4 linked regions of the Homo sapiens genome follow. The protein of the gene in region 3 interacts with the protein of the main gene of each other region in a pairwise test. Each region holds a gene or a part of one and is shown on either strand. Other genes may lie near its edges.

Region 1 (7,728 bases), on a different chromosome or scaffold from region 3:
ATTCCCTTGGGGTAACACAGGGTTACTGAAAACTTGGAGGTCCCCAAAGCCTTCCAGCCTCACTTGCACTGGGCAGTGTTGACCACTCACAAGGCAAGGAGAAGTTCAGAGCAGCCCCAAGGGCAGTGTGGAGTGCCAGGGGTCTGAGTGGCATCAGGGACCCCATGTGTAACCCGTCACTGTCTGAGGGAGGCCTGCACCTCAGGCCTGTGGATAGCAGGCAAGGGCTTGGCAGCACCAGGAGCACAGAGCCCACCTCAGCCTCAAGCTGGGGTAAAAACGTGGGCCTCAGCCTCGAGATGCAGCCAGTTACCCAAGAGCTGCTGCACCTGTGAAAAGCACTCTGTCTTTCAGGTTAAAAGAAGGAGATAGGAATTTATGAAACGCAGAGAAAATGGCACACAGGTTTTTACTACACGAGGAAAAAGTCACCAAATAGAGTTTAAACGACTAAAGAGCTTTACTGGTGAGTAACCTAAAAGAATCTATGGGATGTCCCCTTGGGATATAATACTGTGGAAGGCACCCAAGGAAAGTAACGCTGCTCTGGTCTGAATGTCTGTGTCCTCCCCAAATCCCCATGCTGAAATCCTCATCCCTCAGGTGATGGCGTTAGGAGGCAGGACCCTTGGGAGGTGATGAGGTTGTGAGGGTGGAACTCTCAAGAACGGAATCAGTGTCCTTACACAAAGGCCCCAGAGACACCCTCACTTCTTCCACCATGTGAGGACACAGTGAGAAGACACCATCTATGAACCAGGAAACGCCCTCACCAGACAGGGAATCTGCCAGTTCCTTCATCTTGGACTTCTAGCCTCTAAAAAATAATGAGCAACTCTCAGATCAGAACAAGAGGACCACAGAAAATTACAGATGTGTTCTAAAAAAGAAAAAAAAAATAGCACTTTGGGAGGCCAAGGCGGGAGAACCGCTTAAGGTCAGGAGTTTGAGACCAGCCTGGGCAACACAGCAAGACCCCCACCTCTAGAAAAGCATTTTAAAATTAACCAGGTGTGGTAGCACGTGCCTATAGTCCCAGAGGCTGAGGTGGGAGGATCGCCTGAGGCCAGTTCGAGCTGCAGTGAGCTACAATCATGCCATTGCACTTCAGCCTGGGTAATGAAGTGAGACTCTGTCTCTTGGGAAAAAAAAAAGAAGTCTGATGCTGCCATCACCTACAGGTAAAATGTGAGGAGAAAAAGAGGCTTCCACTGGCTTTGGCTAGATTCTATTTGAGAAATACAAACACATCCTAAAAAAAATACCCTGAAGCTCACTTAAGTCCAGAGGCCCCTCCTCCAACCAACCAGCTGAGCAGTTCAGAGGCCTGGCCCACTTGGCCTGGTGGTCCCTTTGTCTAGAGCCCTGAGCCCACAGTCCCCTCATTCCAGGCTGCCCCAGGTCCCCCCACTTGCCTTCCACACTGCAGCTGCTGACTCTGCCTGGCCATGCAGGTCCCGGGCGTCATTCAAGTCCTTTCTCATGATTTCCACAGACCCCTTGTTCTCCTGTAAAGAAAAGAAGGTCACCAGGGGTGGGCAGAAGCTCTGGGTCCCCCAACCCAGCCCAGTACTGAGGGACATCACCCCAGCTGACTGCACACAGTCTGACCATCCCAGAGATAACCTCGAAGCCCGGTTGTCTAGGGCAGGAACGCACAGGCAGTCAAAAGGTTTCTTGGGCTTCACACCTATTCAGAAGGATCTGGGTGCTGGGGCTAAGGGGACTGTCTAGGTGGGTTTAGGAGTTCTGTGTCTGTAAGTGGCCCTGTTCAGTGTGAGTTCGGCCTGTACCAAAGGTCTGCACAGCCTGCCCTACACCCTGCCCTGCCTGAGCCGGATGGGGGTCGCTCTGCCCGGTGGCAGGACCCCCAATGCAGGAGGAGCACCCAGGGACACAGTCTGGCTGGCTTCCCCTCCCCTGTATTGAAGAGCAGGACCCCAGGCTGGCTGTTGTCTCCTATTCTGTGTCCCACAACCAACCCGCCATGGGCAAGGCTCCAGACTCCCGGACCCGCTGCTGCCAGACTCTCAGAGCGGGTTTCTGAAAGATGGGAGAGGGGACAGGGGGTGCAGGCGAGGGCTGGGTGGCCCGGGGAGCAGACGAGAAGGTGGGCCAGGCCTGTGGACACAGTGGAATACAGAGGGGCAAGAGGCGTGATGTCTCCCCCAAGGGAAGAGTGAGTGGAGGAGTCAATCTGTAGGAACTAGAGGGGGTCTATGAGGGCGAGACAGGGCACAGCTAGTGATGGGACCACAAAGATGGGCGCTGGTGGGGGAAGGACTTCGTAGAAGGTAGGGGGTGGGGAGATAAGGCACCGCCCAGCAGGGGACACCAAGACGGGGAAGGGGACCAGACTCCGAAGAGACGCAGGAAATATGGGGAGGCAAGCCGCAGGAGGGAGGGGCCCAGCACACGCTGGAGAGGGGACCCGTGGCGGTGAGGGGAGGGGGACAATCCGGGGACGGGGACAATCCGGGGACAGGAACAGTGGAGACGGGAAGGGCCCAGGGCTCAGGGGGACCGGGGCGGGGGCGGAGAGGCGCAGGGCACCGTCCGGGGTGGGGCACGGGACCCCGCGGCGCGCACCTTGCCGCGCAGCGCCTTCCTCCAGCGCGGTTCCCACTCGGGCGGCTCGGGGCCCGCAGCCATACGGCAGGCGGCGCAGAGCGGGCCGGCGTCGGCGCGGCACAGCAGCTGCAGCGCGGCCTCGCTGGCCGGGCCGTCGCGCGCGGGCGCCGCGGCCGCCTCCTCGAGCGCCAGAAGGCGGCGGCTGAGCGGGGGCCTGCCGGGCTCCACGGCGCGCTGCCAGCAGTCGTCGGCGCACTCGGGGCACGGGAAGGGCCCGTCCTCCTCGGCCCAGAAGCGCACCACGCACGCCCGACAGAAGCGGTGGCCGCAGTCGGCGCGCACCGGTTCCCGGGGCGCGCGCTGGCACAGGGCGCAGGCGGCCTCGGCGGGGCCCGCAGGGAGCGCCAGGGCTGCGGGCGGCGGGGCCGGCAAGGGCGCAGGAGCGGCTGGGGAGGGCCGGAGACCTAGACGGCCGGCGACCGGACGGAGACCAGCAACAGGACGAAGACGCCAACGCCGGGGACGCGCACGGGGCGGGGTCGGGGACGCGCACGGGGCGGGGTCCGGACCGCGGAGCGCTCTGCCGATAAGATCCTGGCAGCGGTGTGCTGCAGCCGGAGGTCCTGGCCGCGCTGCGCTCCACAGACAAGATCCTGGCAGCAGTGTACTGCATCCTTAGGTCCTGGCCGCGGTGGGCTTCTCCGCCTGGATCCTAGCGGCGGTGCGCTCCTCCGCCTTGATTTTGGCAACTATGCTCTCCACCTGCAAGGTCCTGGCAGCGGCGCACGTCACCGCGCAAGTCCTGGCAGCTGCGCGCTTCACTCTACTGCCTGCGGACCGGCCCAAGTCGTATCCTGAAATCTTACTGGGCTGTCCCTTCCTACTTCAGTAACTCCTGCGAAAGAGGGAAACAAAGTTTTATTTTTACTTGAAGGTTCCATTTTTAAAAGGTTGTTTTTGTAAGCTGCTAGGATCTGAGCTGCGCGTACCCCCGCGGTAGCTCGCCCGCGTGGGCTGGGGACGGGGCGGGAAATGGCCTGCGTGGGCCTCCTCCGCTGCTCTCATCCTGCACGGACCCGCCCTGCATGGGCACGCCCTGCGTGCACGGGCCTGCCCGCGTGGACGTGCCCTGCGTGCACCCTTCCTTCAGGGACCCGCCCTTGAACGGCCCTCCGGACGTGGACACTCGTATACGCCCACCCTGCGTGGGATCTCCCTGCGTGGACCCATCCCGCTGAGCCTCTTCTCGCGCAGCCTCCCTCTGGCCCCCTGGGAAGCTACCCTGGTTGTCCGCTGTCTCCTGGCTGGGGGGAGCTCTCATTGATTCTGTGATGATGCATGACAGAAGAGCATTTGTTAGCTTTGCTTTGCTTTTCTTTCTTTTTTGAGACAGCCTCGCTCTGTTGCCAGGCAGGCTTGAGTGCAGTGGCGCGATCTCGGCTCACTGCAACCTCCGCGTCCCGGGTTCAAGCGATTCTCCTGCCTCAGCCCCCCGAGTAGCCGGTATTGCAGGCGCCTGCCACGACGCCCGGCTAATTTTTGTATTTTTAGTACAGACGGGGTTTCACCATGTTGGCCAGGCTGGCCTCGAACTCCTGACCTCGTAATCCACCCGCCTCTGCCTCCCAAAGTGCTGGGATTACAGGCGTGAGCCACTACACCCGGCCGTTAGCTTTTCTTTAAAAAATAAATTTAAAGGAAAGAAATAAGCCTTTGGGAAGAGCAATCTTGTGTTTTTGTTTTTTAATTATTTTGAAAACAAGCAAGCATGGTTAAAATAAGATTGTGCAAGTTTTGCATTTTAAAAAATTAATCTGGGCCGGGCGCCGTGGCTCACGTCTCTAATCCCAGCACTTTGCGAGGCCGAGGCGAGCGGATCACAAGGTCAAGATATGAGACCATCCTGGCTCATGGTGAAACCCCGTCTCTACTAAAAATACACAAATTAGCCGGGCGTGGTGGCGCATGCCTGTAATCCCAGCTACTCAGGAGGCTGAGGCAGGAGAATCACTTGAACCAGGGAGTCGGAGGTTGCGGTGAGCCAAGATCGTGCCACTGCACTCTAGCCTGGCGACAGAGCGAGACTCTGTCTTAAAAAACAAAAACAAAAAAAAATTTTTATAAATCTGTATTCCAAGCAAGCGCAGGATCTAATGAGGTATTTTTGTCTTTGTGAAGATTTTTTAAATCGACTTGGAAATGCACTAGATGCCCGTGGGAAACATGAATAGTAAACCGAGGTTATTTCTGTGTAGTAAAGATTAGAGGCTTCCAGCCGAGCCTTGCTGATATTGTTGAGTCAACTAGGAACTTGCTGGAGAGAAAAGTAAAAAATATAAAAAATGAGCAAACTTCATAATGAACTAATCTTGTGAATGAGAAAATATCAAAAATTATAATTAAAGGCAAATAGCCAAATTAGGAACATTGTAACCACAAATATACAAAGAGTTTATAAAATTAGGTAAGGAAAAGCATGATGGAAAATACACCTTGTCATGGGATTTTTCAAATCACAAAAAAAAAAGCACACAAATGATTGAACACACATGAGAAAAAAATGTACACTCTGCCCAGTTAAGAAAGAGGAAAATAAAACGAGACTCTCTTTCTTTCCACTATTAAGTAAGCAGACCAAACAAAAAAAAGGAAACTTGGCCGGGAGCCGTGGCTCAGGCCTGTAAACACAGCACTTTGGGAGGCCGAGGCGGGTGAATCATCTGAGGTCAGGAGTTCAAGACCAGCCTGGCCAACATAGTGAAACCCTATCTCTACTAAAAATACAAAAATTAGGCTGGATGTGGTGGCACACGCCTGTAATCCCAGCACTTTGGGAGGCTGAGGCAGGTGGATCACAAGATCAAGAGATCGAGACCATCCTGGCCAACATGGTGAAACCCCGTCTCTACTAAAAATACAAAAATTAGTTGGGCATGGTGGTGCACGCCTGTGGTCCCAGCTACTTGAGAGGCTGAGGCAGGAGAATAGCTGGAACCGGGAGACGAAGGTTGCAGTGAGCCGAGATCATGCCACTACACTCCAACCTGGCGACAGAGCAAGACTCCCTCAGTTTCAAAAAAAAAAAAAAAATACAAAAATTAGCCAGGCATGGTGGCACGTGCCTGTAATCCCAGCTATTTGGGTGGCTGAGGCAGGAGAATCGCTTGAACCTGGGCGGTGGAGGTTGCAGTGAGCCGAGATCACACCACTGCACTCCAGCCTGGGCAACAGAGTGAAACTCCATTTCAAAAAAACAAAAAACAGAAAACAAACAAACAAAAAAAACACTTGATTCTGTGAATACTGCTTCTTGTAATCCACGTAGCAGTATCGATTAAGGATTTTCTGATTGGAATTCCTTTTCTTAGAAAACAAACTATAAAAATAACAGGAAATGAAAATAATAAAAATTGGGTTGTAAAAAATTGGGCTGTTTTGTTTTGTTTAGAAATGTGGCTGGGAGAGGTGGCTCATGCCTGTTAATCCCAGCACTTTGGGAGGCTGAGGTGAGTGGATAGCTTGAGCCCAGTAGTTCAACACCAGCCTGGGGAACATGGCAAGAACCTGTCTGTACAGAAAATTTTTAAAATTTAGCTGGGCGTGGTGGCACGCACCTGTGGACCCAACTACTTGGGAGGCTGAGGTGGGAGGATCACCCGAGCACAGGAGATTGAGCCTGTAGTGAGCCGTGATCATGCCACTGCACTCCAGCCTGGGAAATGAGAGAATTTTTTAAGACCTTGTCTTAAAAAAAAGAAAGAGAGAGAGAGAGAGAGAGAGAGGTGGGGGCGGGGGGTGGGGGAGAGAAGGAAGGAGTGGAGGGAGAGAGGAAGGAAGGAAGAAAGGGAAAAGAAAAAGAAGAAAGGAAGGAAAGAAAGAAAAGGAAGGAAGGAAGGAGAAAAAGAAGGAAGGAAAGAAAGAGAGAAAGGAAGGGAGGGAGGGAGGAAGGGAGAGGAAGAAAGAGAAGAAAGAAAGAGAAATGTATGTCATATCACTATTCATTTTGGAGAAAAAAAAAAAAACCTTGAAGGTCCAATACTAGGGGCATGGCTTAGCAAATGGTAGCAGCCATGAACTTGCACATGTGTGCATTAGAGACTTTTGGAAGTATACACTGGCAAAGATTGTTGCCTGAAAGCCTCTCTCCCTTACCACCAGCAGAATCCACATTGTGTGGTGCCAGCATCCCCACTTCCCAAGACAGGGTGGCTGGTGTAGGTGCCAAGGGGAACCCTTGGTCCTCTCAAATTTTGATGAAAAATTGCAAAAGGCTGGTCGCGGTGGCTCACGCCTGTAATCCCAGCACTTTGGGAGGCCGAGGCTGGCAGATCACAAGGCCAGGAGATGGAGACCATCCTGGCCAACACGGTGAAACCCCATCTCTACTGAAAATACAAAAATTAGCTGGGCATGGTGCTGCATGCCTGTAGTCCCAGCTACTCGGGAGGCTGAGGCAGGAGAATCGCTTGAACCCAGGAGACGGAGGCTACAGTGAGCTGACATAGCATCACTGCACTCCAGCCTGGGTGACAGAGCCAGACTCTGTCTCAAAAAAAAAAAAAAAAGAAAGAAAAATTGCAAAAGGCAGATCAATTGGAGAAAAGGCAGACACATTTATTTACTGTGTCTATACAAACCTAAAGATATGGGGGAAATCGTCCTTTTTTTTTTTTTTTTTGAGACGGAGTCTTGCTCTGTCACCCAGGCTGGAGTGCAGTGGCGCGATCTCGGCTCGCTGCAACCTCCGCCTCCCGGGTTCAAGCGATTCTCCTGCCTCAGCCTCCCGAGTAGCTGGACTACAGGCACGTGCCATACCGCCCGACTAAGTTTTTGTATTTTTAGTAGAGACGGGGGTTCACCGTGTTAGCCAGGATGGTCTCGATCTCCTGACCTTGTGATCCGCCCACTTCGGCCTCCCAAAGTTCTGGGATTAGAGGCGTGAGCCACCATGCCTGGCCAAGATATGAGGGAAATCATCCATTTTTATGCTTAGGTTCCACAAGGTATGGACAGCCATGCAGAAATAGAATTGGGCAAATAGGGTCGGAGCTAATGAGAAGAGCCTAAGTGGGGACACCCAGCCAGGCCTGTCTGTCTAGATTCTTATGGCCTCTCTGAGCAGTCTTCCTTCCTTCCTTCCTTCCATCCAGGACCCTC
Region 2 (7,809 bases), on a different chromosome or scaffold from region 3:
AGGGTCACAAGGTGGGGCCATGTCACAGCGCTCAGCCTGGCCCTTACTGGGGCTTAGGATTCTTTTTTTTTTTTTTTTTTTTGAGACAGAATCTCATTCTGTCATCCAGGCTGGAGTGCAATGGTGTGATCTCAGCTCACTGCAACCTCCGCCTCCCAGGTTCAAGTGATTCTTTGCCTCAGCCTCCTGAGCAGCTGGGATTACAGGCACGCGCCACTACGCCCAGCTAATTTTTGTATTTTTAATAGAGATGGGGTTTTGCCATGTTGCCCAAGCTGGTCTCAAACTCCTGACCTCAAGTGATCTGCCTGCCTCAGCCTCCCAAATTGTTGGGATTACAGGTGTGAGCCACCGCACCCGGCCTTGGGCTCAGGAGTCTCAGTCCAGAACAGTCTTGGCTGGGAAGGGGCTCAGGGTGTGGAGCCTCGCTCACTAGTCTGTGTGTGCTGCTCTTCCAGGGGGAGGTGACCATCCACTACAACAAGCTGCAGGCGGACCCCAAGCAGGGCATGTCCCTGGACATTGGTAAGCTGGTCAGAGCAGTTACGGGTGTCCAGCAGCCTCCCTGGATGGGCCCTGGCCCAAAGGAGAAGTGCCACAGCCAGCCCTGCCCTCCCCTTTATGACAGGAGAATCCAGAGTTACATGGCTGTGGGCTCTGACCTCTGACCAAGCAAATCTGAAAGGCCTGGGAGGCCTCCCGGTGCTCTCCCTGCATCTGTTCTTGTACTCTGTCCCTGGTTTCTCACTCCCCCGCGTTTCACCCCTACCTCCCTGCTTCTGCCATCTCCTCTGGGGACTTGCTACCCTAGGGTTGTCCTTTGCAGGCCAGCGCCTCGGCTTCCATGGCCCAGGGCCTCACTCTTCATAAAGGGAGAGCAGCCTAACCCTGGCCTGGCGCCTCATGCCCTCTAGCACAGCGCACTCCTCCCTGGCCTCTCCTGCCATCAGCTCCCAGGGGGACTCTGGATCTGAACTGGACCTCAGGCATTGGGCAGAGGGTCTGCGCCCTGGGACAAGTTCCCTCCTGTTAGAGGGGCTGAGCCTCGGTTCTGTAGAAACTTTAAGACTCAAGAGCTGGACAGCAGCTTCGAGTCCTCTGGACCGGCCGCTTCACATTATGGATCAAAGCCTGAGACCCAGAGAGGGCGCTGCAGCCCCTGGTGAGCGCACACCTAGGTCTCAGCTCTGGAGCCCAGCAATCCCCTTCATACACCCTAGGGCCAGAGGCCAAGGGGCTAAGGGCAGGCTGGATCTATCTGGGAGCTCCCTCCGAAACCCTCTGGTTCCAACACAGGACTAAGTCCCCTTCCTAGGACTAAGCTGGTCAGATGCAGTAACTGAGTCTGGGGTCCGAGCTTCATGGTCATTGATGGTGCCCATTACTTTCACATAACCAGCCCAGGGGCCCCTCTTCTCCCCCTCCCCTTTATGTGACACCCTAGGTCCTGATGTGACACAGAGGAGGGGAAGAGGCCTCCTTGGCTTCCATTAGCCTGTGCTGAGCCCGGGCAGCACTGGGCTCTCAGCAACCAGCAGCTGATGTTGCGTAGCAGGCCCTGGGCGAAGCGCTTCATGTTTAACTGCCCAGGCTGCCAGCACCTCTGTGAAGCAGAGGGAATAGGGCAGGGGCCTAGGACCTCCCCACTGGACATTCCCCACTTCACAGCCACCCCCAGCAGCCCTTCTGCCCCCTGTGGGGTGCTCCCTGTGCATGGAGGTAAGGCTGGGGGCAGGGATGGCCTCTGGGCAGCCACAGACTCACCAGGTCCTTTGTCCCCCGCTCAGTGTTGAAGAAAGTCAAGCACCGGCTGGTGGAGAACATGAGTTCAGGGACCGCAGATGCTCTGGGCCTGAGCCGGGCCATCCTGTGCAATGGTGAGTCCCTTCCCACCCAGCTGGGGCCCCGGGGACTCAAGCCCAGGCTGAGAAGAGTGGGGGGCACCATGGCTGCCCACCAAGCTGCTGTGGGTCCCGCGGGTCTGACCCTGGCCTCTGCCCGTGGAACTGAGAAGTCACCATCTCTGTACCCCCAGAGGCCTCTCCAGCTCCCGGAGGGTCCACAGCTGTCAGCTGGGCTGTCTTAGCCAGTGCCCCTCAGGTCACAGATGGGAAAATAGACTTAGTGTGGGGAGGTGCCTCTGCCCCTGCCCTCAGCCCCTTACCCCTCACCCCAGCACTCTCGCGGCCCACCTCCTGCCTCCTTTGTCCAGGAGGTGGTGCTGCTGCCCTTGCCTCTGCAGGTCCTCCCTTCGTGGTGGCTGCGCAGGCGAGGGGGGAGGCGTGTACATGCACATTTACACACGCATGCACACATGCGCACACACTTTCCCTCCCTGGGGTGGCCAGCGAAACACTCAGTCCCCCTCCTACCGTCGCCAGTCCGAGTTTAAAAATAGCAGCAGCTCTGCAGTGTGCCTGTGGGGTAGATATAAATACTTCTAGAAATTGTAGGCTCAGCTGGGCACACTGGGCTTTATTGGCTAAGGAAGTGGGGGTGGGGACTGAGCTTGTTCCAAATGGTGTACAAAAGTGGCGGCTGCTATTTTCAGCCTCCTGGTGCCGTGCCTATAAATCCCTGTTACTGTAGTTACCAGCCGTTGAGATGAAATTAGAACTGGTTGTTGTGTTTTTCCCCCCAAACCTTGCAATTTCCCTGGCCTTAAATAGGGTTTCTAAAATTGAAGCTGTCATGATGTCCCATGACCCAGCTAAAAACAACAACACGATGCTTACATGGCTCCTTTCCTGCCGCTGGCCAGGTGCTAAGGCTCTGGGGAACCCAGGCCTGGAGGCCACCGGGTGGCCAAAGCCTCCCCAAGACCTCTGAATTGCTCCCTTCCTTCCCCGACAGCCTGTCGCACTGCCACCTCCCTGCCCAGAGAGGCCTGAACACAGCCTCCGCTCCTCCCCTCTTCTGCTAAAAAACCCTGACCCAGGTCAACACAGGAGGCTGGGGAGCAGAGAGCACCTGACTGCCCCACCTCTCCCCTGCAGCCCTCACCATCACACTGCTGTCCATCGCCCGGCCACTGGGCTGGCTTCTCTGCTGGGCTTTCAGCCTTGAGAGCAAGACTTGGCTCAAAGTGAGCCTGACATGGTGGCTGGCACACAGTGGGTGCTCAAGAAACACTAAGCCAATGACTGATCACCAAGGCCTCTTCCCAGTGTGAGCTCTCTCAGCCTTCCTGAATTTCCCCCTCCCTCCCCAAGTTGCGTTTTCCCTTCTGAGCCATCTGTGTGCTTGGGAGGCAGAGACCATGTCCTTCCTGCGCTAGAGGCCTGGCTGCTCCATCTCCATTCCTATGGCCCCTGCCAGCCTTCCTCCCCAGCTGTCAGCAGGCTTTGTGTTAGAAGTGTGGGAGCTTTGCCTGCTAGGCACGGACCCTCCGCTGGCCATGAGGAGGGCCTAGTCATTTACAAAACACCTTTGAACCCAGCTGACCCGAGCTGCCAAATCCCCCTCCCTGGGACCCCTGATCTTTCCCTTCCTGGTTCTCCTCTGGGGTTGCCTCTCCCCTCCCCAGCATGGCCCTGGGCCTCCTGTGGCTTGCTGAGCCCACTGACCTCCCCTCTTCTTTGAATCCCGACAGATGGGCTTGTCAAGAGGCTAGAGGAGCTGGAGCGGACCGCTGAGCTATACAAAGGTGGGTGGGGGGTGGCCTCGTCCTGGCACTAGCTCTACCCCAGGGAGCATGCTCTCAGCAGAGTGGCAACAGGGGTGCTGGCACTAGGAATGCCAGCCTACAAAATACTAGGACCATGGGCATTAAGAGTTCTTAAGAATATATACTTCTTCTGAATTTAAAAATAACTCAGGGGCCTGGTGCAGTGGCTCACGCCTGTAATCCCAGCACTTTGGGAGGCTGAGGTGGGCGGATCACTTAAGGTCAGGAGTTTGAGACCAGCCCGGCCAACATGGTGAAACGCCATCTCTACTGAAAATACAAAAATTAGCCAGGCATGATGGTGTGTGCCTATAATCAGTACTCGAGAGGCTGAGGCATGAGAATCGCTTGAACCAGGGAGGCAGAGGTTGCAGTGAGCCAAGATCACACCACCGCACTCTAGTCTGGGCAATAGAGCAAGACCCTATCTCAAAAAAAACAAAACCTGATACTCATAAAAATTCAGAGAATAGCACTTGTAAACATAGCGAGAGTCCCCCGGAATCCCACACTGTCCCAGGGCTAAAGCCCACAGCAGGCTGTGTACCCCTGCATCTTACAAAATGCTGGCGCCCCTGTCTGATGGGGCTCCTCACGGGTTGGGTCGGACTGAGCTTTTACCCCTGGGCTGTGGTTGGGCGGTGGGGAAAGGCCATGTATCAGGGCCTAGCAGAGGCCTTGGGTGGCATGGGCAATTGGAGGCCTTGCCCTGGGCCAGTGTGGTCCCCGCCATGCGTCCCCATTCCGCATCACTCGGTCTCTCCCACAGGGATGACGGAACACACCAAGAACCTCCTACGGGCCTTTTATGAGCTGTCGCAGACTCACCGGGGTAATGGCATCCCCCAAAGCTGTGGTGTGACCGTGGGCAATCCCTGGGGCCTCTCACTCCCATGCTGAGGTGGGTCAGACCCACAGCGCCTGACCTCAGGCTCCCTCTGGGCTGGGCCTGGTCCCAGGTGCTGGGATTTGCGATGGGCCTGCGGGGAACATCTAGATCAGCTGGTCTCTTAAGGGCCGCAACGATGAACAGGCCCCACCCTGTCTCCTCACACTGCCACTGGCAGTACACAAGGCCCTTGCTTATTTATATTTCTGACAACCTGTAACTCTGGGCAGGCCGACTGCAGCTGACCCCAGCTACTGCAGAAAATGAAGCCCAGACAAAGGAGAGGGCCACACTGCTCCCAAGTGGTGGAGCTGTTGTTCCAATCCAGGTGTCTAGACTCGGACCAGTGTTCTGCCTCAGGCGGCGCCACCTCCACAAACCTTGACCCAGTCTTCTCTCACTGGTCCCTCTGGGGAATGAGGGCCAACTCCCTTGGTGTGTACACTCAGGACTCTAGGGGGCACAGACCAGCTCTTGGAGGTGTCAATCCAGTTTCCTCCAGGTGTAGACTCAGCTCCTTCAGGGGGTTTAGACCAGCTCTCTTGGAGGTGTAGCCCCTGTGCAGACATTGGCTTCCAGCCTGCCAGGCCCCCTGCCCTGCTTCTCCCCAACAAACCCCTGGCTTCTCTTAGGGGGCCAAGTAGGGGCAGCCTTCAAGGCAAACTTGTCCTGCAGCCTTTGGGGACGTGTTCTCCGTGATCGGGGTGCGGGAGCCCCAGCCAGCTGCGAGCGAGGCTTTTGTGAAGTTCGCCGATGCCCACCGCAGCATCGAGAAGTTCGGCATTCGGCTTCTGAAAACCATCAAGCCGGTAGGTCCTATTGAGCATGTGTGTGTCTGGCGTGTGAGGGTGGGGAGGGGAGAGTGTGGCATGCAGAGAAGGTCGTATGCTGGAGTCCTGTGCCTGGGTACAGCCTCTGGCTCAGTCACCCACACAGTGGACTGTGGGTGAGTCACTGTGCCCCCTTGGGCCTTGCCATTGACCTCTGGGCTGGCTTCTGACCCTGGCTCGCCACTGAGTCACAGCTTGCCCTAGGCCTGGCACTAGTCTTCTCATCCTTGAGAGGGACAAGGCATCAGGGAGCACCATCTGGCTCTGATAGTCGAGTCCACCAACAAGGGTGACGCATCAGTGCCATTCATTGTCACCCTGGCACACCCCTGCCGTGACAGCCTCAGCATCCACCCACCCTCTTCCAGATGCTGACGGATCTGAACACGTACCTCAACAAAGCCATCCCGGACACTCGCCTCACCATCAAGAAGTACCTGGACGTGAAGTTTGAGTACCTGGTGAGTAGTCCAGGTGCCCAGGCTGCTAGGGCAAGCGCCCACCCTGGAGATCTGCCCCACTTCAGTCAGCCATGCTGCGGCCAGCGAGGCCAGCCAGAGCTGACAGCATGTCTGCTCCAGGTGTGGGCCCAGAGGCCCAGGGAGGTGCAGCCAAAGCCCTGCTGCGCCTGCACAAAGAAGCATCTGAGAGCCTGGGGCGGGCATGGCTCTCGCTGTGTGCACTCTGACCCCTTGGGATTTGTTGCCTTTAAACAATGGGTTAGACTAGGTGAGTGAGCATAAAATGGGTGTCAGTGAACGTTCGTGAGTTTTACATTTAATTATTCTACAGTCAAAGGAATTGAGAGAAAATGCTCTATTAAGCAAGCCAAGGTTCCTTTGCTGCAGGACTTATCAGAGCCTTTGCTAGGCTGATGTGCAGTGTGAATTTTCAAGGGTCTTCCTAAGCTCCTTTAACGACAGACCCCTTTTTCCCCAGAGCATCTCTTGGGCCTTGAGTTTGGTCAACTCGGCCGCCTAAGCCTCAGGCCCTGTCATCCCTCAGCACCTGCCGCTGCCCGCTCTGGGACTCCCTGAACACCTGCGCCAGCCTCTCCTGCTGCGTGTGGGTGATGGGGGTGGAGCTGGGGACCTGGGGTGGGGGTAGTAGCCACTCTGACAGCCTCACCTGTCCCACACAGTCGTACTGCCTGAAGGTGAAGGAGATGGATGACGAGGAATACAGCTGCATTGTGAGTGTTGGAGGGGGTGGGGGGCTTGTACTTCCCCCCACCTGGTCTGCCAGGGATAGCAGGTGGCTCAGGCCAACCCGGGAGAGACCGGGGGGACTTGGCTGGACTCTCGTTCCTGGAGATTTAGGGCCATCTTCCCAGTCCCGCTCGCTGGGCCTCGGGGTGCTGGGCACCCGGCCGGGAACCACTCCCTCAGTCTGGGGGACTCTTGGAGGGAAATCGGATTTTCTTCACTCCTATGAGGCGCTTTTAAGTGTTTGATTTTTCTGCTGTCGGGATCCATTTCGTGGCCAGTGTTCATTGAATGTGGCAGAGGTTTGGGTTTGGTTTTTTCCTCTCTTCAAAGCTATCACTGAGTGCTTCTGAGAAACACTGAAGTCTCAGAAATGAGGTCTCAGGAATGAAGAACAGCCGTGGCTTTGAAAGCACAGTGCGGTGCGAGGCCGTCCCTGAGCAGGCACTCCTGTCCCACCCCCGCCCCAGGCCCTAGGCGAGCCCCTTTACCGGGTGAGCACCGGCAACTATGAGTACCGCCTGATCCTGCGCTGCCGCCAGGAGGCGCGCGCCCGCTTCTCCCAGATGCGCAAGGATGTGCTGGAGAAGATGGAGCTGCTGGACCAGAAGCACGGTGAGCGCCGCCCTCCTCCCCGTCCGCTCTCCATTTCAGAGGTGGGAAAACTGAGGCCCAGAGGGGTACTCTCAGGGCCAGGCCACGGCCCAGATGTAAAGCCCCTCCAGGAGCCCAGCCATCTGCCCAGAGCCTGGCCTGGGTGGAGCTGGCCTGTGCGCGTGGGCTCCGTGGGCTGCCATCCATGATCCATTTACCCTGCAGCCTCCTGCGTTCCCTGAACTGGGAGCGGGGAGGCCCCGGGCTGGGCGGCCCCTGCCTCCGCCCCTTGCCAGGTCATGAGGGGTCAGGGAAGTGCCCGAGTGGGAAGCCCAGGGGAGGCGAGAGGTGGGCCGGGTGGGCTGGGAGAGTCTCCTCCCTGAGGCAGGCAGCCAGAGCCCACTGCAGCCTGTCCCCCGACCTCCCACCCCAGTCCAGGACATCGTGTTCCAGCTGCAGCGCCTCGTGTCCACCATGTCCAAGTACTACAACGACTGCTACGCAGTGCTGCGGGATGCCGACGTCTTCCCCATCGAGGTAGACCTGGCGCACACCACATTGGCCTATGGCCTCAACCAGGAGGAGTTCACAGATGGGGAGGAGGAGGAGGAGGAGGAAGACACG
Region 3 (7,809 bases):
CATGCTGTAATACAAGGTGACATTTAGGGGCTGAGACTGTTAACATCTGACTGTACCTTGCTATTTGTAACTTACAATCTTATTCACATTTCTCAAGTGCCATGCCTTTAGGTGCCTATACATCATGCTATCATAGGATTTCTAGGGATAAGCCGAGTGCCGTGGCAGATGCCTGTAATCCCAGCACTTTAGGAGGCTGAGGGGGGTGGATCATGAGGTCACAAGTTTGAGACCAGCCTGGCTAACGTAGTGAAAGCCCATCTCTACTAAAAATACAAAAATTAGGTGGGCGTGGTGGAGGGAACCTATAGGCCCAGCTACTTGGGAGGCTGAGGCAAGAGAATCACTTGAACCTGGGAGGCGGAGGTTGCAGTGAGCCGAGACCATGCCATTGCACTTCAGCCTGGGTGACAGAGTGAGACTCTGTCTCAAAAAAAAAAAAAAAAAAAAATTTAGGGATAATATCTAAGCCCATATAACCTGCTGTTATAAAAGGTAACATTTAGGGATTGAGATTTTTTTTTTTTTTTTTTTTTTTTTTTGAGACGGAGTCTCGCTCTGTCACCAGGCTGGAGTGCAGTGGTGCAATCTCGGCTCACTGCAACCTATGCCTCCCAGGTTTAACGAATTCTCCTGCCTCAGCCTCCCAAGCAGCTGGGACTACAGGCACCCACCACTATGCTTGGGTAATTTTTGTATTTTTAGTAGAGACAGGGTTTCACCATATTGTCCAGGGTGGTCTTGAACTCCTGACCTTGTAAGCCACCCACCTCAGCCTCCCAAAGTGCTGGGATTACAGGCCTGAGCCAAAACACCCAGCTGAGATTCTTCATATAGCTGATTATCTTGCCATTTCTAACTTACAAGCTTTATCCACATTTCTTAACCTTTTGTTTCACTAAATGGGACAGGAAGTTTTAACTCTTGTATCCATGAAGCATCTTAGTAAAATAACAGATATTCCATTTGCAAATTATGCTCCCCAAAAAACACAAACACATATGTAAAAAATGTTATAAAGACATTAAGTGTCCACTCAATAACTTTGATTCAAACTATCTTCATGTTCTTCACTTCACAAGATAAAGCTCTTAAAATGGACTTTGTGAGGTTCCATGTGTTTGGTCAGTCATGAGAGGAAGAATAATTCAGAGTGAGAGGAAACAAGAGAGATTCTAGGCAGCCCTCAGGGAAGCTGAGGAGGTGGCTCCCTGCCTCCGGGTCCCTCAGAATGTCCCATCTCCCTGTCAGTATCAGTGTCCCAGATAATCTTCTTCTGACTGGGACATTTCCCAATTTGGGAACAGTGGTTACTTGCCAAATTCACATTTACGGCCAAAACTGTGGCTACAGTGTCGACATTCATGCAAGTGGGGAAATGGGCATGTGGCCCCTGAAAAAAGATTCTGGATTCCATAATCTCACCTTGCTGGCAAGAAACTACCATTTCAGCAGAAAGTGCAATGACAGTGTCTGCACAGGGACTGGAGATTATCTCCAGAAAAGAGCTTGGAGTGAGGAAATTAGTTAATGTGGATGAATGACGTTACCCATGGAGAATGAAGTAAGTAGCTAGAAGACAAAAGCCTCAGAACACATAAATCTCAACGGGTACTGAGTAGAGGACTCGGAGCTCTGAGGTAATTGGAGCTCATGGCTATCCCAGAACTTGGATAACATAAAGTTCTTGTTTCTACAAAGTGTGTATCCTTTCCATATGTGAGAACTCTGAGGAAATACAAACTTGGAACAAAAGAAATAGTAAGGTAATCTTAGAAAGATGTTGAATAGAAAGCAAGCTACGGTGACATCTTAACTGTTTCACTGCCCAGCAATCTATACGTATTGTCACTTGGGGACACTTATGATTCCACATGAAGTGGATAACCAGCTCATAGCTCTTGTGGTACTGAAAACCAAGTATTTGGCCGGGCATGGTGTGGTGTACTCGTAATCTCAGCTCCTTGGGAGGCTGAGGTAGGAGAATCACTTGAACCTGGGAGGCCCAAGTTGCAGTGAGCCAAGATTGCACCACTGCACTCCAGCCTGGGTGACAGAATGAGACTCCGTTCCAATGCGAAGTCTCTTAAGACCAAGGAGAGCAGACATTCTGATGTTTCCCAGATTGACAGCACTCATAAGGCCTTTCTCCAGTATGAACTCTCCTGTGTTTAATGAGACGGGATGTTTCAGCAAACGATTTCCCATATTCACTGCACTCATAAGGCCTTTCTCCTGTGTGAACTCTGATGATGAAGGAGGGTAGAGCTTCGCTGAAATGTTTTTCCACATTTGGTACATTCATAAGGCCTTTCTCCAGTGTGAATTCTCCTGTGTTTAATGAGACTGGAACATTCAGCAAAGGATTTTCCACATTCACTGCACTTATAAGGCTTTTGTCCAGAATGAACTCTTTTATGAACATGAAGCGCAGAGCTGGAAAGAAATGATTTCCCACATTCATTGCATTCATACGGCCTTTCTCCAGTGTGAATCCTCTGATGTATAGTCACGCAGTTCTTATTACCAAATAATTTCCCACATACCTCACACGCATATGGCCTTTCTCCAGTGTGAACTCTCTCATGAACGAGAAGATGATACTTCCTGTTAAATAATTTCCCACATTCCCTACAATTGTAAGGTCTTTCCCCAGTGTGAAGTCTCTGGTGTTCAGTGAGGTGGGATCTGTACCTAAATGATTTCCCACATTCCTTGCACTCATAGGGCCTTTCTCCAGTATGACCTCGCTGATGTTGAACGAGGTTGCCCTTTTGACCAAAAGATTTTCCACATTCTCCACACTTGTAAGGCCTTTCTCCAGTGTGAACACGCTGATGGTTAATAAAGCAGAACTTCTGACGAAAAGATTTCCCACATTCCCCACAGTGATAAGCTCTCTCTCCAGTGTGACCTTGCTGATGTTGAATGAGGTTACCCTTTTGACCAAAAGATTTCCCATATTCTCTACACTCATAAGGCCTTTCTCCAGTGTGAACACGCTGATGGCTAATAAGGCTGCCCTTCTGACTAAAAGATTTCCCGCACTCCTCACAGGGATAAGCTGTCTTTCCAGTGTGGACTCGCTGATGTTGAATAAGGCTGCTCTTTCGACTATAAGATTTCCCACACTCTCCACAATCATAAGGTCCTTTTGCAGTGTGATCTCGCTGATGATTACTGAAGCTGACATATCTGCTAAAGGATTTTCCACAATCACTGCACACATAACATCCATCTCTAGTGAAAAGTTTCTGGTGTGGAATAACTGAGTGTTTGGTGCTGAAGGCTTTTGTGCGTTTTCCACAACTGTAATTAGTTTTTCCCTCCTGAAAGGGTGGGCCATGCATAGTTTCACTGTCTGTCTTCTCTACAGCAGCTGCTTCTTGGCACAATCCTGAACTGGGCAGAACGTCCTTCCCAAACTCGCGGAAGACAAATGGCTCCTGTGACACCCTGAGCTTACGTTTCTTTACAAACGATGCTTCTCTGACACTCTTTCTGTAGAATTTCTCTCCAATATGCTGCTTCTGGTGCTGATGAAGGTATGCAGTGTCATCCAAGTTTTTTCCACATGCTCCACTCCTGTTCAGCTTCTGCTTGTGATGAGTTTCCTGGTGGTCAGCAAAGTGAAAAACATCCTCCAAGATGAGGCCACACATTTCACAGGGGTGAGCCTTCTTAGGAGAAACACCTGCCCTAGGAGTCCTGCTCTGAGACTCTCTTTGTACAGAAATTCTCTGCTTACAAGGTGCCTCCTCATCTTTTGATCCACACCAACAACCTGAGAGCAAGAAAATGCTGGTCAAGTGCAAAGTACCTCTGACGGGAAGGCACAGCCCACCCACAAGTACGTCTCACAAATTGAGGAATTAATCTATAGAAATATTTGCAGGAACACAATGTTGGCTTCAAGTTGAAGATGGGGCTGCTGGCCGGGCGCAGTGGCTCACGCCTGTAATCCCAGCACTTTGGGAGGCTGAGGCGGGTGGATCACCTGAGGTCAGAAGTTCGAGACCAGCGTGACCAACATGGTGAAAACCCATCTCTACTAAAAATACAAAAATTAGCTGGATGTGGTGGTGAGCGCCTGTAATCCCAGCCACTCGGGAGGCTGAGGCAGGAGAATCATTTGAACCCGGGAGGTGGAGGTTTGCATTGAGCCATGATCGCACCACTGCACTGCAGCCTGGATAACAGAGCGAGACTCCATCTCAAAATAATAATAATAATAATAAAAAGAAGAATGAGCTGCCTAGCATTACTGGGCTATAAAGGTCACAGAATCCAGGAGGCCTCATGATGTAAAGAGCACAAGCATACAGGCAACACAGGGAGTAGAGGCAGGGTCCACAGCTCCTTCCTCTAAACACAAGTTGTGTACGGGACCTTATCTCCTAATGACATGTGAGTGCTATGTAGAAGCATATGGACTGGGCGCGGTGGCTCATGCCTGTAATCCCAGCACTTTGCAAGGGTGAGGCAAGTGGATAACCTGAGTTCAGTAGTTGGAGACGAGCCTGGCTAACACGGTGAAACCCTGTGTCTACTAAAAAAAGAAAAAATTAGCTAGGTGTGGTGGTGCAGGCCTGTAATCCCAGCTACTTGGGCGGCTGAGGCAGGAAAATCACTTCAACCTGGGAAGCAGAGGTTGCAATGAGCCAAGATTGTGCCATTGCACTCCAGCTTGGGCAACAAGAGCGAAACTCCATCTCAAAAAATATAAATATAGAAGCATATGTCAAGACCAAGAAAACATGAGTACAACACAGCAGAGGGTGGTCATGGATGGTTTAACATAGGGCATACACTTCCTAATATGTAATCGATACACCAATATCAGAGACAAGTGCAGATGAAAGCACAAGAAAAATGGGTGAGATGTGAGTATTAGTGCTGGGGTGGATATCACAGTAGAAGTGAAAAGGTACAGAACTAACACGTGTGAAACTCTCAACAATGGGGAGAAAAAGACAAATAGTGTGTGCCTACTCATATTGCCACAAAAACACTTGGCAAATATAAATGGTTTCTGGTATGATTTGGATAAACCCCTGAAGTCATGCCCTCCCCCAGCATGGCACTCCTGAGGGACAGGCTCCCTTTGAGCCTATCGTGATGAGCCTGAATTGAACCACATCTTGTCAAACATGGAGGTCTCTCCATCTCACACCCAGTACATAGGACCCGACGATGTAACTATGAAGGGAGAGACAGCAGAGATGAACAGCCAACACTAGCTCAGGACAACTAAGCACCTGACAGCCCACAGGAGAGTAAGGTAAGTATTACAAAAGAATTCCTAAGCAGGGTCTTGCAAGAAGAGTCTATGGTCTATGGTCTATGTAGGTAGTGACAATGTCAATGAAGGCAATTCTTGGCACAGGGAGGCACAAAGCATTGTCAGATAGAGGAAGGAAGTGTTAATAGAACCTGGGCACACAAGAGCTACCGATTTGGACAGTCACCTGACAGCCAGAGAGCAGGCAAAGTGGATACACTTAGGTGCCTATTAGACTCCTGACTCTGACTCCTTCCCTGGGAGCCTGGAGCAAAGCAGGTGTTGGAGGTGCTTAAGGAAAGGAAAAGGCAATACACACAACTTACATAGAGAAGTGTAGAAGGAACCTGTGTCCAGGCTCCTTAAGTGAGAAAGACAGTCCTGTCAATGAAAAACAGGGGAACAGTAACACTAGCTCAGGTCACAAAGGTGAGCGTGAGCAACTTACCCAGCGAGGATATGAGAGCCAGGTTCTCTAGCATCACATCACGGTACAAGCACCTCTGAGCCTCACTAAGAAGACACCACTCCTCCTGGGAAAAGTTCACAGCCACATCTTCAAAGGTCACAGTGCCCTGCTATGATAGTGACAGATGAAACCACAAACAGCCCCTCTGCTGAGGTACCACAACCCACCTCTCCCACACACCCACACTTGCCCATCCTCCTCCCAAGGTCCCCAACATAGTGTTGAAACTATGTCCACTAGTGCCTTTGTCTCTTCATGGGCCCACTGGTCAATTGCCATCAGCAATAAGCAGTAAGTGGACAAATAGGTATCCATGCTGAGGTCCTGACATAAAAAGGTCCATCCCCTTCTGAATAGCGATATCCAAGCTCATGTAAAGCCCAGGGCAGCTGCCTGAGCCCATTGGACAAACTCCCTCTCTAAATATACATCATTCTTTATACTGCAAAGACACATCCCCATGGCCACCCCTACCTGAGTTTTCCCTACCATCAGCCTCTCTCTGGCATCCCCACAAATAGAACTTTGTTTTTTGGGGTTTTTTTTGAGACATAGTCTAGCTCTGTCACCCAGGCTGGAGTGCAGTGGCATGATCTTGGCTCTTTGCAGCCTCCGCCTCCTGGGTTCAAGTGATTCTCGTGCCTCAGCCTCCCAAGTAGCCGGGATTACAGCCACGCACCACTATACCCGGCTAATTTTTGTATTTTTTTTTTTGGTAGAGAGGGGGTTTCACCATGTTGGCCAGGCTGGTCTTGAGCTCCTGGTCTCAAGTGATCCATCCGCCTTGGCCTCCAAAAGTGAGATTACAGGGGTGGGTCACTGCACCCAGCCCCCACAAATAAAATTATTTCACAAGATGAAGAGGGTATAACGGCCCATGATTCCCTTGGGAATATGCAATGGTTTGTTTCCATAACTCTGCTGGTAGGGATGGAATTGAAACCCACCACAAAATATAACAACCTGGAACCCTGCCTTATCACCTTGATAAAACGGGCTGTTAGGCTAGGATACATTATTCAAGAGAGCAGAGTGGGAATGAGATTTGTACTCACACCTTTTAAGGTTGTCCCACTTTCACAAGATGTCAAAGTGACACATCATATTGGGCCTTCAATTCTGGCCTTATACCAAAATGTGGATAAGCATCCAGACTATGCTTGACAAATACAAATAGGATCCAATATTAACACAGAATTTCCATGGTTTACAATAGCAGTGGTAATCCCAAATCATCCTGTGAACGTCTCCCGGAATGACTCCATAGCCACACAGAACCACATATGGCTTCAGATATCCATGGACCTATTTCACTTTTGTGCTGCACCAGCTGAGACCTCAGCTGTAGCAACCCTCCTCTGTCCATCTAATGCTGTTTAAAGCCCAGCCCCTGGATTTGTGAACCAAACCACATCTACTATCACAGATGAGCATATTTTTCACTGCCCACATGCACCAAGCTGAATGAAACTCTCCAGGCACTCCCAAAGTCATCTCAAAACGTTTATGAATCCAGACAGTGATAAATAGTTACAACTTGGCACCAACTCAGGCAGAAGTGTCATCTTCCTTACTCCTATGCTTCTGCATGCATCTATCTCATCTATTCTCTCCTCGGATGTCTATGTCCCCTTCCAAACTCTACTGTCTGATACATCCTGCCATGATGTTCACTCACACCCTCTCAGGTGTTTAGGAAGCCCAATAACATCACTCAGGGACGTAAGTAAGAGATCCACTCCTCAGCCTGTAGTCACACCTTCCTGGCCCCTGAAAAGATTTACCACCAAAATCTGAAGCATGTCCTCCTAAATGGACCCATAACTAACTTACTGAAGTTCACCCATTAGCTTTCAAATATTGGATGTCTCCAGTATCAACACCCTCCCAGATACCCCATCCTGTATGTCTAGTTATCCATTTAATGCCACCATTTATTGGTCACTGACTCTTCATATGGCCAAAACAACACTCTTGATATCCACAGTCAATATTATGTCAATACCAACTTCATGTCAGCTGATGCAGCGTCCATGGTTACAGCTGCTAAGATCAAAAA
Region 4 (8,141 bases), on a different chromosome or scaffold from region 3:
AGCAGGATTCCAGTCCAGGAAGGACCTGGGGAAGGGGTCTCACCTGGAGCCCTTCAAGGAGGACAAGTAGGTGCTCTCTCGGGCTACTTGGCGGGACAAAGAGAAGAGCTCCACTCTCCGTAATAAGAGCGTGTTGTCCCTCATGCAGAACTGGGCAGCAGCCTCGTTGATGGTGAGCTGTGGAGGGAGGGCAGCCAGGAGAGTCAGAATTCGAACTTCCCCGCTGCCTCACCAGACCTCCTCACACCCCTTCACCATTGGACAAATGAGGCCCATCCATCAGACGCTTGCTTTGGTTTTGACACTACATGGGAGCTTTCTGAGGTGGGAAGACAGAGGTCAGCACCCACAGCTTCCTAGGAATGCCCGGGGCCTCCTCCTCTCCTGTGGGGTCCTGAGTGACAAGGAGCTGAACAGCTCGGTGCTGCCTGTATCTCTGCTTCCCCCTCAGCTGAGGATGGAAGCACTGCGGCCGCTGGGGTAGGGGCCTGTTGGGGAGGGGATCAGGGCCTGGGGTCCTGGTCAAGAGATAATGAAAGATAGTCGGAGACTGTAGAAACTCGCAGAGGTAAGCGGCTGGAGACCTGGAAGTCAAGGGCAATCCTAGGAGGCCTGGGGGTTCTCACCTCGTGCAGGCTGAGCTGCTTGCCCTCCCGCCGCTTAGAGTCGAAACGGCCATAGATGATGCTGTATTTGCGGATCTCCTCTTCCTTCTGGCTGTCATTATCATCCATCTCAAAGATGTGCCCAACGCTCCGTGCCAGCTTCTTATTCAGCTTTAGCAGGGATGTGACCTCCCCAGCATCCCCCCTTGGGAAGCTCCGGAAGATCCTCTCCACACTTTCCACCACCATGCGTACCATCTCTGGCTCCAGTCGGTCTGGACCACCCCCAGTCCCACCTGCTGCCAGCCCCCCAGCCCCAGTCCCCTCAGGGACTCCTCCCCCTGCAGGGGGGGAGAAGGGGGGCGAGCCAGCCTCCTCTTCTCCTCCTGCCCCAACGTCCGACTCTGGAGTGCTCCGGCCTGGCCAGATCCGGGGGTCCCCTGCCCCAGGTCCCCCAGGCAGTGGTGATAGCTTCTCTCCAAGTTCAAGGGGGCTCTTGGGGCTAAAACTGCGGGCACTGCCTGCCTTTTCCCCTGGGCTGCCATGCCCATTGCTCATGCTCCCTTTCCGGGTACCCGCAGTCTCAGAGATCTTGAAGAGCGGGATGCTGGAGACGGGAACAGCAGGCACTGGTTGACTGAAGAGCCCTGGATTGGTGGCCCACTCTCTCAGTGCCTTCTGCAGGCGCCGGACATGGAGGGGCTTGGTGGCCATGCCCACAAGTGCCATGATCTCCAGAAACTCCTCCTCACCCGCCTCACACAGCTGCTGCACGTCGTCCCCTCCCTGCTGGATGAAGGTCTCATAGTAGGAAAGGAGGTTGGCGCGCTGCAGGACCCGGTACAGCTGCAGCTCCCCCAGCGTCCGAGGCAGTGCCATGGCTCGGGCACTGGGCCTGAGAAGGAGGGGCACAAGAGAGAGGCAGTCGGTGCAAGTCCCCCTACTGGGTACCAACCCACACTAACAATTGTTCCCTCTTTCCTGCCTGCTTTTCTTCCCCTCCCTCATTTGGATGCTATCCTGCCCAGTGCCCAGGTCTGAGTACAGACTCTCAGAATCAGGCACTGCTCAGAGGCATGGACAAGCCAGTGCCGTCCTAGACTGGCCCGAAGCCCCAAAAGTCAGTGGCCTGTGTCTGTAGGAGTCGAAGCGTCTTACAACCTTATCTTCAGCTTTTATCTTTTTGGTCTGGGGCAAGAAGAACTTGAGCGCTGAGGCTGACCAGCACCGACCTGGGATGGCTGGACCTCCCTCTCCCCCAAAACACAATCCTCACCTTCCCCTCTAAACACTCAGCAGTCTCAACACTGAAGTGAAGTCACCCATACTAAAGTGAATGTAGGAGCCCAGTCTCCCCCACAGTGGACGCTGCTGGCCAGCTTCATTCCCTGTGAAGGGGCCACAGCCCCAGGTGGCTAAAAGGGAGGGTGTGGCACCTTCCCTGGCTTTCCCACTCAGTGAGCCAGGTGGTGCCTTACTCTTCTCCGCTCAGCTTTTCCCAGGGGTTAAGCATTTATTTATTTATTTATTTATTTATTTATTTGAGACGGAGTCTCGCTCTGTCACCCAGGCTGGAGTGCAGTGGCGCTGTCACTGCAACCTCCGCCTCCCGGGTTCAAGCGATTCTCCTGCCTCAGCCTCCTGAGTAGCTGAGATTACAGGCGCCCGCCACCATGCCCGGCTAATTTTTGTATTTTTAGTAGAAACGGGGTTTCACCATGTTGGTCAGGCTGGGCTCGAATTCCTGACCTCGTGATCCACCCGCCTCAGCCTCCCAAAGTGCTGGGATTACAGGCCTGAGCCACCGGGCCCGCCCGGCCTGGTTAAGCATTCTTAACGCACGCTTCCTCTCTCCCCTCAGAACCTCTCCACCCTTCCAGGCTGCCCAGTGCTCCTCAGTGGCCCCTCTCCTAGCAGTGACACTCCCCACTTCCTCGGTCAGCCTTTTCCTTCAGCTCAGGGGCCGTGGCAGGGGGAGGGGCGCAATTGTTCTGCTCCGGGGCCGTTCCGCCCACACACACTCCCACAGTGGTAGCGTCTGTAGGCGAAAACCGCCCAGGGGCTCCCGCCTACTCTCCTCTCCCATATTTTCCACCCGCATCTTCAAGTGGAGTGGGGGAGCGGCTCAAGGCCTCTTGATGAAGGGGCTGCACACTGAAACTCCCCTCCCCGCTCTGTGAATAAAGGGACAGATATGGGAAGGAACGCCTAAGGCCTCCCTGCCTCCCTCGTCACCCCCCCTTTCCCCCGCTGATGCTCCTTTAACTCAAAGGCACCGGGGGCCCGCGCGCTCCGTGCCAACGAGGGACTGAGGCAACTGAGCGTCCCCCCACCTTCCGCACTGATGCCAGCTCGAGCTCCAGGGCATCCCCTGGTGCTTGGAGGCTCCCACATTCTTTGCAGGGGGCTCTTAGGCCAGATGGAGCCCACAGAGTAAACCAGGAATGGAGATTTGGGTACTACTCTTTCATATCCAGCTTCATCAGATGCTTGCCTGCTCCCAGGGCCCCCTAATTCGAAGACGCACCCCCTTTTCCATCAGTCTCCACCCCCCACCCCCGTCCTGCTTCCCCACGTCCTCCCCTCGACCTCCGCCCTCTGGACCCCATTCCCAAGTCCAGCTCCACCCATCTCCACTCCCCGCTGCCTCCCTTTGCCCACTAACTTGAGTCTGGGCTGCAGGGTCCGGCGGGCGCTGTCCCCTCCGCCCGGCGGCTGCTCGGCTGTGGGGGAAGGCGCTCTGTGCATGGACGGCCGGAGATCACCCGGGCTGCCCTTCTCGGTGCCCGGCGCTCGGCGCCTGCTGCGTGCTGCCCTCTTCCCCGCGCACGATGCCGTGTCCACCGCTGTCCAGGCTCTGTCCCTCCCTCCACGTCTTCTCTCTCCGAGCCTCCGCGCCTCTGTCTGTGCCTCTGCCCCCCCACCCTCCCCGGCTGCGCTTGCCGCCTCTCCGCGCCTCCGCCCCCGCAGGACGCACAGGGAGCGAGGCCCGGAGCTGCGCTGGCTGCCGGGCTGGCGGGCGGAGGGCGTGGGCAGAGCCGGGGGCGGGGGTGGGGGCGGGGGCCGGGGAGGCGGGCGCTGGGGCCTCTCGGCCGCGGAGACGCCGCGGCTTAGAGACTGGGAGAGGCGGAGACGGGGGGGGAGGGGGTGTGGAGCAGGAGGCGGGGGCGGGGATTCAGAGCCGGGGCGCCGAATTGGGGACCGAGGTGACCGAGGCCCGGCTGTGCAGGGCGGGCTTGGGGACCCAGCGGGCGGGGCGAGGTCGTTCTGTGCCGCCCACGCCGGATGCACAGCCGGCCCTCTTGGCGCCCACGTACCCACGTGAGCGCCCCGCCGGCGACATTCCTTCTCTCCCCCACCCCTCCGAGCTGAGAGAGGAGTTTCACAACCACGCACAAGTACACAAAGACACAGAAGCGCACGGACGTGCACACGCGCCTAAACAACTACGGGGACGCCCGTTGCCCATACTCAGGCCTTGTGGTGCTGGACGTGTGAATGTTAGCAGTGAGCCGGGAAAAGTTAGCGAAGGCTGGGCTGTGCGGCTTCTCCTGTGCGTGCATCTGACTCCCGTATAGTGTGCACTTAAGGCGGGCCTGAGAGCGTGGGGCTCTGCAGGGATCTCCTAGATATCCCCGCGCCCCTCCTCAGCCCCAATGGAATAATCTGAGGGGGTCGCTCTCAGAAACCCAGGCCTCCATGCTAGCCTGGAAAGTTTGGGAAACAGGAATGGGAGGGTTATGCTGCACGCCACCACTTAGGTGCGCGTGTTGATTAGACGCGTCGGCTTTTGTCAGCGCGTAGGTCAGGCAGGGATTCCTCCACTTGTCCTCTGTTTGCTGAGGATGAGGCCCTGCCTGGGAATTTTGTGTGACAAAGACGATACCCTTCCTGGGGCCGTCTATTAGGGACCTCGCCCGAGAGTCTAGTGGAAGATGAGTAAGAGGTCGGGAGCCTACGACGTGACTTCCTGCGGCGGAGCTGGAAGGAGGAGCGCCTTGAAGGAGCTTAGCCCCCGCCTCTGCAACCCACCACCGTCTCCCCCTTTGGTTTCTCCTAGCCCCATCTGGTTCGCATTGCACTCCCGCCCACGGCTGGGAGGGCTGTTGGGGGAGGCGGGGGCTCTAAGGGCCCGGCCCATAGACTCTAAGCCCCAGGGAAAGGAGGGGGGGTGGGGGCCGGGGAAAGCGAGCGGACTGGCCACAGGTGAGGTTTCCCCTAGTCCGGAATCTCAGCCCCGCCCCGCCTCTCTGTCCGCACTTCTGAGGGGCTGGGGTGGGGCATGGCGGGGCGTGGAGGCCGTGGACCGGGGCTGGTTTTACAATGTGGCCTAGCGAGGAGACCTTTCCGCCTTGTGGGGTCCGGGGAGAAGGAGCGCGTTGTTGGTGGGAGGATTTCAGTTGCTCAGGTCCTCTTCTCCAACCTATTAAGCGCCAAACACAGTGGGGGTGGTGGGAACGAGCAGAGTCCCGTCTCCCAGTCCCCCGCCCCGCAACTGGAGGGTGCGGCTAGACGGGCTCCCCTGGGGACGCTCCCGACCCCGTACGGGGTGTGGGCGACCCCTCCCCCCCCACCTCAGGTTATTTTGGATCCCGGGCTGCCAGCCGCTGGCCCCGGGTTTCCACGTGCCCCCTCCCTCCCCCAGCCCACGCTCCCCGTGACGCACATCCTCCGCCCACGCAGCCTCTGCTCGAGGCGCCCCCCTCCCTCCCACCCCGGCCCCCTTGGGGCGGCGCTGAGCCTTAGGATCTGGAGGGAGACGCCCGCCCAAGGAGGAGGCGGAGTAGGGCGTGAGCAAGTGAGCGGCAACCTACTGGGCGCGGGGCGCCCGGGTCCCGGTCCTGATCCGGGAAAGAGGGGGAGGGAGGAGCCGATTTTGAGCTCTCCGCTCCCGGGTCCTGGGAGAGGGGGTGCTCGGCCAGAGAGGGACGAGGGAAGAGAAATTCCGCAGAAGGGGCCTGCCCACTCCCCTAGGGGAGCCAGCGGGGGTCCGGGTGCGAACCCGTGTGTGAGAGTGAAACTACCGGGTGTTTGTGTCTTTGTGCCCTTGTTTCTCAAGATTGTCGTGAGATTCGGATGAGAGAATGTACGGGAAAACTCTCTAAATTGTAGAATGCTAAGCATATTTAAGACGCTACTGCCAGTTTGTGTCTCTGTACCCGAGATTATGTATTTATATGTTTCTTTATATCCACTTGTATATCTGTGTTCCTCTCTCTCTCTAGGTTTGTGTATGAGCCCCTATTTAAAAAATCATTGACTTGTCAGGGCCCGCCAGAGGCCCAGAGCGCCCCCGCAGCCCGCAGCCAGAGCTGCCGAGATGTCTGTTCTTCCCGCCCACTCCTGCCACCCCCAACTCCCCTCCTACTCCCTTCCGTTGAGAACAAGGAATTTCCAGCCTGTAGCAAAGGGAAAGAGGCAAAGACAAAGACGGAGACCATGGGAAACTATAGAAAAACATAAAGAGACAGGTGTGTGTGTGGGGGGGGGGGAGTGGTGACAAAAAGGGAGTGGGGACAAATACAAAAATTTTCATTTGTTTCCTGCATGGGACCTGTTCTCCCCTGTGTCCCCTTGGCTCACTCAAAGAAGGACCACTTCTGTGCCTGACTCACCTGCTCTCCCCATCCCCAGTGCTCTCAAAGACAGACCAGAGGAACTGATCTCGTGATAAAAAGGATTAATATTCTTTTATCTGTGCTGGTCTCCTCCGTGAAGGGAAACAGTATCCTCAGTCCTAGTTTTCCAAGAAAAGGGGAAACGATTGCGAGGAAAGGGAGGAAAGTGGGCGGAAGAGGAGTGCAGAGACTGTCGTCCCTACGCGCACGTGTAGATTTTCATCTAGCAGATTGCTCTGCTCACTCCTCCCCCAACGTCTCCACTGGGCCAGATCCGACTCACTCAGCAAGGTTTGGCTCACCCTCTCCTTCCTGGACCCCTTCCACTCCTCCAGGCAGAATTAATTCCTCCCACCCCTCGGTGGCCTCCTCATTGCTCTTTGTACACATTTCCAATTATAGTTGCTTGTTTCAGCCGAAATCCAGGACCTCTCCAGGATAGGCCTGTTATCTGGTGGACCCTCTGAAATGAATAAATTGATCCTATTCACAGGCCTGTGCAACTTTGAAAGGGCACATGACACAGATTTTACTCCCAAAGGGGCTGAGCCTGGGCAAAACTGTTTAAGTGAAGACATTTGTTTTCCATATCTCTTTCCCTTGTAAAGTTTCCAGTGAGTCCCACAAATCTGGCTCCTTGGCCTTCTAAAATGTCCACCATTCTGGTAAATTAATTCACACTCAGATGCTAAAGGTAGTAGGCCGAAGTCCTGGCTGGTAATAGAAAAGTATAAAGTAATGATCCCTTTTTTCTCTTTCAGTAACATGGCAGAATTTATCATCTAAGGAATGTTGTCCTTCAAGTTAGTTATTTTACAAGAAATGTTTCACTCCTGAAAGACAGATAATCCTAACCACTGCCTTTAAGGAGCTCACAGACTAATAGGGGAAATAGACCTATAAACGAATAATTACAACATAGTGCAATAATATGGGTACAACAATGACAGAAGTATAAGAGGGTGAGTGATCTGTTCTGCTTGGAGTTGTGAGGGGCCTTGGTTTAGACAGGCATCCAAAGGAGGTGATGATGCAGTCAGTATGAGATTTCCAGGAGTGGCCAGGGCGGTGGCTCACACCTGTAATCATAGCACTTCAGGAGGCTGAGGTGGGAGGAACATTTGAGCCCAGAAGTTGAAGGCTGCAGTGAGCCTTGATGGCGCCACTGCATCCCTGCACCACAGAGCAAAAAGTGAGTCTCAAAAACAAAAAACAAAAACAAAAACAAAAATTCTAGGAGGAAGGGAAGTCAAGTCAGAGAGGCCAGAAAGTGCATTTCCATGGAGGTGGAGGTATGAAACAGAGTGATATGTTTCAGAAACTATAAAAGGTTGTTCATTATTGCTGGGTGGTGGGTGGAGCTGGTTAGAAACGAGCCTAGGGAGGTGTACAGGTACATTACATTAAAAATATTTTGGACCAGTGCTTTTCAAAGTATGGTTAAGGACCAATTTTTAAAACATTTCCAATCTATTATTGTCCACTACTTTTGTAGAATGCACTAAAAATGAATTATTCAAAAAACAAAATAAACTACCATTTTGTTAGATTCAATAAATATAAAATTTCTCTGTCAAATTCCTATAAAACTTTCTAAATGCTTACACTTAATTTCTGAAATTGTTTCATTACAGATTGGTGACAAACATTGAATAACATTATTATAGTTATTTGTGTCTTTGCCTCTGAGTTTTAGATCATACTAAGGATGTTGGACTTCATCCTGTGGTGTTACTGGAACCATAAAGACTCTGGAAACAAAGACTCATGGCATGGTCAGATCTGCACTTAGGAGCAGAGTGGAGGAAGGATTTATGGCTGCAAAAACAGTAGGAAGGTCAGCTTGAAAAATACTGAAGGACCCTCTCAGTTGAAAGATGGCAAGGCACTGGCATGGGGGGAAAGAACAGATTCAAAA

Evidence for each region.
Region 1: the proteins of ZNF417 (region 3) and RNF187 interact in binary tests that used the Homo sapiens proteins (3 or more experiments, as listed by UniProt).
Region 2: the proteins of ZNF417 (region 3) and PICK1 interact in binary tests that used the Homo sapiens proteins (3 or more experiments, as listed by UniProt).
Region 4: the proteins of ZNF417 (region 3) and NAB2 interact in binary tests that used the Homo sapiens proteins (3 or more experiments, as listed by UniProt).

The regions. Positions count from the first base shown.
Region 1 is NC_000001.11:228,482,740-228,490,467, reverse strand, and holds the start of RNF187 (E3 ubiquitin-protein ligase RNF187), read right to left. Parts: upstream 3,087-7,728; 5' UTR 2,980-3,086; coding exon 2,590-2,979; intron 1,509-2,589; coding exon 1,416-1,508; intron 1-1,415.
Region 2 is NC_000022.11:38,067,246-38,075,054, forward strand, and holds part of PICK1 (PRKCA-binding protein), read left to right. Parts: intron 1-458; coding exon 459-525; intron 526-826; exon of another isoform or gene 827-903; coding exon of another isoform or gene 904-1,162; intron 1,163-1,787; coding exon 1,788-1,877; intron 1,878-3,592; coding exon 3,593-3,646; intron 3,647-4,436; coding exon 4,437-4,499; intron 4,500-5,231; coding exon 5,232-5,365; intron 5,366-5,754; coding exon 5,755-5,847; intron 5,848-6,527; coding exon 6,528-6,578; intron 6,579-7,061; coding exon 7,062-7,206; intron 7,207-7,618; coding exon 7,619-7,809. UniProt on the Homo sapiens protein: Probable adapter protein that bind to and organize the subcellular localization of a variety of membrane proteins containing some PDZ recognition sequence.
Region 3 is NC_000019.10:57,906,331-57,914,139, forward strand, and holds part of ZNF417 (zinc finger protein 417), read right to left. Parts: intron 5,860-7,809; coding exon 5,730-5,859; intron 3,785-5,729; coding exon 2,220-3,784; 3' UTR 1-2,219. UniProt on the Homo sapiens protein: May be involved in transcriptional regulation.
Region 4 is NC_000012.12:57,084,484-57,092,624, reverse strand, and holds the start of NAB2 (NGFI-A-binding protein 2), read right to left. Parts: upstream 3,512-8,141; 5' UTR 3,354-3,511; coding exon 3,271-3,353; intron 1,501-3,270; coding exon 627-1,500; intron 178-626; coding exon 44-177; intron 1-43. Other genes in the region: NEMP1 (nuclear envelope integral membrane protein 1), read left to right, coding at 4,541-4,811. UniProt on the Homo sapiens protein: Acts as a transcriptional repressor for zinc finger transcription factors EGR1 and EGR2. Isoform 2 lacks repression ability.